Linked DNA regions of Homo sapiens. The protein of the gene in region 2 purifies or fractionates together with the protein of the main gene of each other region. This does not show direct contact. Each region holds a gene or a part of one and is shown on either strand. Other genes may lie near its edges.

Region 1 (3,827 bases), on a different chromosome or scaffold from region 2:
CTCCCAGGTTCAAGCGATTCTGCTGCCTCAGCCTCTCAAGTAGCTGGGATTACAGGCACGTGCCACCATGCCTGGCTAATTTTTGTATTTTTAGTAGAGATGGACTTTCATCATGTTGGCCAGGCTGGTATCAACTCCTGACCTCAAGTGATCCGCCCACCTCAGCCTCCTAAAGTTCTGGGATCACAAGTGTGAGCCACCACACCCAGCAGAATTGTAATATTTTAATGTGATATAAATCTAGTACACTGTATGCTTTCCTTCAAGAAATTGCCTGTGCTTTTTAGTTTAATGACTATGAATAGATATTGAATTATTATGGCTCATATGTATACTATGACAAAAATTGCTTTAAATGTATTTCTGTAGTGACAGATATCATAATTAGCACCTTTTTACACTCAGGTACCACATTTGTAGAAATTTATTTAATACCCTGTCATTCAGCTCTGGAGTTTCAGGGGGAGGTGCTAGCATGTCTCCATCAACTCTCTCCCTCCTCTTTTCCCAGGCAATCTACTCTTTTTTTTTTTTTTATTTTTAAAATTAATTTTTAAAAATATATTAAAATAAATAAACTTTTTTAACCTAAATTTTATATTGAGCCCAGACCTAACAAGCAGGGCCAGGATTTGCCCAGGAGGGAGCAGAGTTTAGAACAGAGTTGTTGAAAAGTATTCAGAAGTAGTATTAATAATGTGTCATAGGTTGCATATAACTAGGAGGAGACAGTAGTAAGGTCGACAAGAGAGATTGCCCAACAAACAACAGTTGCAGTTCTTTTCCTCCTCGACTTCTGTCTCTATTATTAGCTCTGTGGCCTAGCAAGGGTTGATACAATATTTCGTTATCTTAAATAAAGGTAGGACAAAGTTATGCCTTGAATTTCTTTTGAGTCCTTTATAATACATTGATGAGCATAGACTAGGCATATAGTAAATGCTAAGTTGATTGAGAGGAGAATTTAGCGTTTACATTTAAGAGAAGCGGCTGGGTGCGGTGGCTCACACCTGTAATCCCAGCATTTTGGGAGGCTGAGGTGGGTGGTTTGCCTGAGCTCAGTTCGAGACCAGCCAGGGCAACATGGTGAAACCCCGTCTCTACTAAAATACAAAAAATTAGCCGGGCCTAACCGCATGTGCCTGTAGTCCCAGCTACTTGGGAGGCTGAGGCAGGAGAATTGCTTGAACCTGGGAGGCAGAGGTTTCAGTGAGCAGAGATCGCGCCACTGCACTCCAGCCTCGGCAACAGAGCAAGACTCTGTCTCAAAAAACAGAGAAGCTAATTTTTAGAAGTACTTTACTATCTGTAAGTTGATAATAGTAAGTTTGTAAGAAGCATTGGTTTTAGTTTGAAATTTATTATGTCAATATAATTTTCAAATTAGGTAATATAAACATCCACAAGTATTAATTTGTTTATATAATAGATGTCATCTCTTTTTTTTTTCTTTTTTTTTTTTTTTTTTGAGACGGAGTTTCGCTCTTGTTGCCCAGGCTGGAGTGCAATGGCACGATCTCAGGTCACCACAACCTCCGCCTCCCGGGTTCAAGCAATCCTCCCGCCTCAGCCTCCCAAGTAGCTGAGATTACAGGCACACACCACCACACCCGGCTAATTTTTGTATTTTTAGTAGAGACAGAGTTTCACCATGTTGGTTAGGCTGGTCTCGAACTCCTGACCTCATGATCCGCCCGCCTCAGCCTCCCAAAGTGCTGGGATTACAGGCATGAGCCATCATGCTCGGCCAACGTCATCTCTTTCAACAATTTTGCCTGCAGAAAAAAATGTTTCAAAAGTTAGTGGTTGAAAACAGATCATCTCTGGAGAGTAGCATTTAAGAGGTTTTTACTTTCTAGATTAAATATTTCTTTGTAGGGTACAGTTTTTAAAAAGTACATTACTTGCTATAACAAGATAGCTTAGAAAAATAATAAAATAAAAATATTTTAATAAATAAAAATACATTGTTTTCTTCAGAAACAGATTTAAATTGGTGTTAGAGATAAATTTTTTAAATAACTGTACTTGGCTAAGATTTGCTAAAGTTCCTGTGTGTTTGTACAGGGAAAACTTGAAAGCAGTGACAACTGAAGATAGAGAAATGAGGAAAAAGAAGGAAGAATATTTAACTTTTAGTCCTCTTACAGTTGTAATATTTGTGGTCATCTGCTGTGTTATGATGGTCTTACTTTATTTCTTCTACAAATGGTTGGGTAAGAAGTCATATTTTATGTTTGCTACTGTTAACATACATTCTTTTCACTGACTATTACTAGATTTATCTTTTCCTTTAAGCCATTCTACCTGGAAAACGTATGTGAATAATTTGGTTAATATTAATTTTTTTTTAATTATCAGAGTGTTAGGTCTCTGTTACTCTGAGATAAAAATATTCAGATTAAAAATACAATATGTGCCAGGAGCAGTGACTCACACCTGTAATCCCAGCACTTTGGGAGGCCAAAGTGGACAGATCACCTGAGGTTGGGAGTTTGAGACCAGCCTGACCAACATGGAGAAACTCCATCTATACTGAAAATACAGAAATTAGCTGGGTGTGGTGGCACGTGCCTGTAATCCCAACTACTTGAGAGGCTGAGTCAGGAGAATCGCTCGAACCTGGGAGGTGGAGTTTGCAGTGAGCCGACATTGCGCCATTGCACTCCAGCCTGGGCAACAAGAGCGAAACTCCGTCTTAAAAAAAAAAAAAAAAAAAAAAAAAGTACGTTATGTTTTCAGATAAGAACACTTCTTCATGGATGACTTGAAATAATTGCCATGGTCCCTAAGTTTTCCTCTCTGTAGATGAATGATATAGCTCAGTATCTAAGCAGTGGATTAAGGAGTTCTTGGTGGCTATATTTAGTTACATGAAATAGAAGATTATTCAAATTACTGATGTATTGCCTCTACTTACTCCCAAGTGTAGTTTATCTTTTGTCAATTTGCAAATCAAGATGTTTTATTGCTTGAATTTTATGTTACTTATATAAACAGTTAGGATCATATATCTGAAGACACACAGGTACTTCCCTGTGGTCTAGAAAGTAACTAGTTCTTTTTTTCCTTGAAGAAAGTGGGAGCAGGAACTATAATGGCTTGTCCATCTCCTGAACAGTCTTATTAATGGCTTAATAGAATGGAAATTTGCCATCCCTGGACAGTATACAGCACAAAGAGAAGGGAGACCAGGGTAAAAGGAGTGTACCTGATAAGAACTAGCAAAAAGCCCTTTTAAGAACCACCAAAGGCTACCATGCTTATGTGTATAGCATTAGCATAAATTTCTGGACTAGAAAACTAGGGCCTAGGATTTGTTTCATTCAGCTTTTTTTTTTTTTTTGGAAACAGAGTCTTGCTCTGTCGCCCAGGCTGGAGTGCAGTGGCGCAGTCTTGGCTCACTGCAACCTCCACCTCCCAGGTTCAAGTGAGTCTCCTGCCTCAGTCTCCTGAGTAGCTGGGATTACAGGTGTGCGCCACTGTGCCCGACTAATTTTTGTATTGTTAGTACAGACGGGATTTCACTATGTTGACCAGGCTGGTCTCGAACTCCTGACCTCAAGTGATCCACCTGCCTTGGCCTCCCAAAGTGCTAGGATTACAGGCGTGAGTTACCGCACCCAGCCTCATTCAGTTTTTGTTCAGTTTCTCTTGTCCTGTGACAGCAGTTTAAAAACTAGACCTATGATATCTTTTTTTTTGAGACAGTCTTGCTCTGCTCTGCTCTGTCACCCAGGCTGGAGTGCAGTGGCACAATCTGGGTTCACTGCAACCTCTGCCTCTCGCATTCAAGCGATTCTCCTGCCTCAGCCTCCCAAGTAGCT
Region 2 (3,827 bases):
ATAAAATGCATCATCAAATACCCTTAATAAGAATACATTTAAGCTTTCCATCTAAATAGTGTTTCTTGTTGAGAATTAAAACTTTCTTCCTTTTTAGCCCCTCTTCTTTTCTGCAATTCAACTTTTTCTTGTATTTAAAGTATTCATCATTTATTGAATTTAGTACTGGATGTTGATTCACCATTCTTATTGCTAAAGGAAGCCTGATTGATAATATACTCAAGATGAGTTTGTGCTGAATTTAAAAATTATTTATTGCTATGATCAATTTTATTCAAATTTCATTGCATTTGATGAATTCCTTAAGGAAAATAAACAATGGGCCAAAGTGTAAAAATTAAATAACATACATAGACTAGAAATATTATCTGAAAACAGGTGACAAAAATCTAATGCTGCTTCCTATTAAATAATAATTTTCAACTCATTTTATATCAAGCTATAAAGTTTTTTAAACATCTAATTCAAGATTATATAATACTAGTTTCAGTGAAGATTCGTTTTCCTATAACTTCTTCTGCATTCTCTTAGTATGACTAAAGGCTCAGTGTAACAGAATTGATATAAAAGTATCTCAAACAATTACTGTTGATACCTAATGTGAATGGTTAAAAAAGTTTTGATTCTTATGACTTTGTACCAAAATAAAGCTTCTGATATATCTTTAGGATTGTATTTGATGATCAGTTAACGATACAAGCAAAAAATACTTGAACTAAGTTAACATTTACATATAAAAATAGAGAATATATACAACTATAGTGATCTTGATGATATCTTCAAGTATGGTATACTAACAAACTAGAGTATCACCAGCCTGAGTAAACAGTTCATGTTTTAAAGTCTAAATTGTTTTTAAAGTCAGAAGACAATTCTATTCTTAATAATTTTCATTTTCCCCACTAACTGAGAGATTCTTTATCTTGGTTAATAACTTGAAAAATATGGAATAATTAGAAGTTATTTGTCTGAAAGAAGCCTGGAGTGTCTCAATATTTAGAAGGGAGTTTATGGATTTTTTCTAAGCATGAATCCCTTTATGTTATGATTCTTGTATATATTTATTGTTGTTTTAGTTTTTAAGAGTTGGGATCTCCCTCTGTAACTCAGGCTGGTGTGCAGTGGCACAGTCATAGCTTACCACAGCCTGAAACTTTTGTGCTCGAGGGATCCTCCTGCTTCAGCCTCCTCAGTAGCTGGGACTACAGGTACACGCCACATCAGGCTAATTTTTTTTTAAATTTTTATGTTTTATAGAGTCGAGGTCTCACTATGCTGCCCAGGCTGGTCTCAAGCTCCTGGCCTCTCAAGTGATCCTCCCAACTTATCCTCCAGAGTAGCTGGGATTATAAGCACAGACCACCACACCTAGCTGATTCTTTTATTCTGCTCATAATAAATAAAAGGCTGTGATAAGAAAAGCCACAGGGCTGGAAAGAGTCCACAAATCCTCCGTTTTCTGAGGTGTCTATTTTCTGCCATTCAGGAATGTGGTGCCTACAAAACTCAGGAAAGGAAGGTAATAATTAAAAAAGCTCAAGCCACAAATAGTATAGCTAGACACACATCTTACTAGCCAGGAGTTTCACCAGCAAGCGGTCTCTATTCTGTTTTAAAAGAACATAGCTTCTTTCTCTTGCTGAGGTTTATATGGCCACAGTGTAGGCTTCTTGGAGTTCCCTGATTTTCTGCTCAGGTCACATATACTATTAAAAATCACACATTCATTTTCAAAGTATTAAAATATAATCAAATAGATTCAACACTAAAATTAAGCTGAACATAATTTATTCTTTTTCTTGGACATGATGTGAGAAATAAAACATCCTGGCCTGGGAGTCAGAAGATTAGGTTTTCTTGATCTCAAGGCTGAGTGGTCTCGACCAAGTTACTTAACCTTTCTAGGCCTCCTTTTCCTCTGACGAAAAACAAGGGAGTTGCACTGGATAAGTTTTAAAGTCCCTTTTCAAATTTCATTGAAACACTAAGTCATGATCTTGAACAGTGCCTCTTGACTATGAAGATCAACTACCATTAGAGTGTAAAATTAATTCTAGTGTTTGCAATTTTCTGATGCTTATATTATGTTAATGGGAGTTTTCTATACTTCCAGGAGCCAATCATTAGAATTTGGCTAATAAAAACATAACTGAGATTTTTTTTTTTTACACTGTACATAAAGTTTACTTTGGCATTCACAGGGATGATCTGGAGAGAGCTTTTTGTTATACATGTTCTTATTTTATTCTCTTATTGTTGAAATCCTATTCTGTTCTCAAGTGAGTGGCAAAAGAGTAGCATAAAAGAGAGATAACTTGGTTAAGGTATTTCTTACTGAGATAAAAGAATAATAGAAGTATTTTTATTCTTTAATTTTTTTACATTTTAATTTTTTCAATTTTCAGAACTTAATTTTTTGAACTATTGCTAACACTTAAAAGCAAGGATTTTTCATAGGTTTACCACTACTGGTAAAGAGTTATGATTACTTCCAAAATATTAATATCGTGCCAAAGAAAACAGAGTTTGTTACCATTTTTATGTATATAGCAATGTATTTTACTAGTTATCTTGATAATTTTCAGAAATGGGACAAAAATAGAAGACTCATGATTCTGCTTTTACTATTTCAAACCAGATGTTAAGCATGTTGAATTCAAATTTAGAAAAGGACTCTGTGGAGTGCCAGCTACAACTTTGGGAGTAGGATAAATAATTTCTTCAACAGTTATATATGTACCTAATAAGAAGCCAACAACTCCAGTGAATGCTATAGAAATATTTTTCAGGACCATCCATATATTATAATGTTCCTTCGAAAATGTAAGAATTTCAACCAAAGGTGGCAGGATTAGGGCCAATGTGCTGCTGCTCACAGCTCCAACGAAGGAAATCACAATGTCTAAACGAGGAATAAGAATTGCTCCGGCACCTAGAAAATGAAAATACATTTATTTTTCTTATTTAAATGTTTGTTACTTACATGAATATTAACAGTAAGTATTTTCAATACTGAAAGTAATTACTAGAAATAATTAATGAAAGTTGAACTACTAAACTATTGCTTGTGAAAAAAATCTGCCATATTTTGTTCTAAGCTAGAGAGAGACAGAAAGACCAAAATAGTGAGTGACATGTCCTAGACTTACACTTGTCAACAGTTTCTTATGTAAACAACTTTTAATTTTTTGCTTTAAAATTCTGGGCAAAGAAGTTTTGATAGTTTATTTCCAGAGCATTTGCATTACTTTGTCTGCCCATACAGCTCAATAACGCACAAGACATAGAGTGGTGGGACATAAATAAATGAGAGAGAAGAGATAGCTATTCCTTAAAGTAGAATTCCAATTAATCAAAATAGAAGGAACAATGGAAACAGAAAAGCATTAAGCAAATACCACAATAATCACAGGATAGGAAGAGTCACTGATGAATGCTGAAATTAGTGGGCAAAAACTGGATGAGATCAGAGTTTCAAAATATCTTCCTTCAAGATACTTATTAATTATAAAAGGAGAACTAGTAGCTTTACAGTGGAGAAATAAGTCAACAGACCACCTTAGCCAAGTAAACAAAATTAACATCACCAATAAGACACTGATACTATGATGTGATACACTGAGAAGTGCACAGCATCACTTCTGTGGGATTCTTGTTAAAAATGCTTAACTTCAACCTAATCATGAGAAAGCATCAGAAAAATTCAAATTGAAAGAAATTCTACACAATTACTGACATTTCGAAAGTGTGAAGGTCAAGAAAGACAAAGAAAGTCAAGGACAGTCAAGATTGGAAGACACAAATGAGTATGACAGCTAAATTCAAGT

The links.
Region 1: the proteins of SLC36A4 (region 2) and SPPL2A fractionate together in Homo sapiens (co-fractionation; one large-scale study listed by BioGRID). This does not show direct contact.

Annotation. Positions count from the first base shown.
Region 1 is NC_000015.10:50,738,069-50,741,895, reverse strand, and holds part of SPPL2A (signal peptide peptidase-like 2A isoform 1 precursor), read left to right. Parts: intron 1-2,067; coding exon 2,068-2,216; intron 2,217-3,827. UniProt on the Homo sapiens protein: Intramembrane-cleaving aspartic protease (I-CLiP) that cleaves type II membrane signal peptides in the hydrophobic plane of the membrane. Functions in FASLG, ITM2B and TNF processing.
Region 2 is NC_000011.10:93,145,913-93,149,739, forward strand, and holds part of SLC36A4 (neutral amino acid uniporter 4), read right to left. Parts: intron 2,933-3,827; coding exon 2,625-2,932; 3' UTR 1-2,624.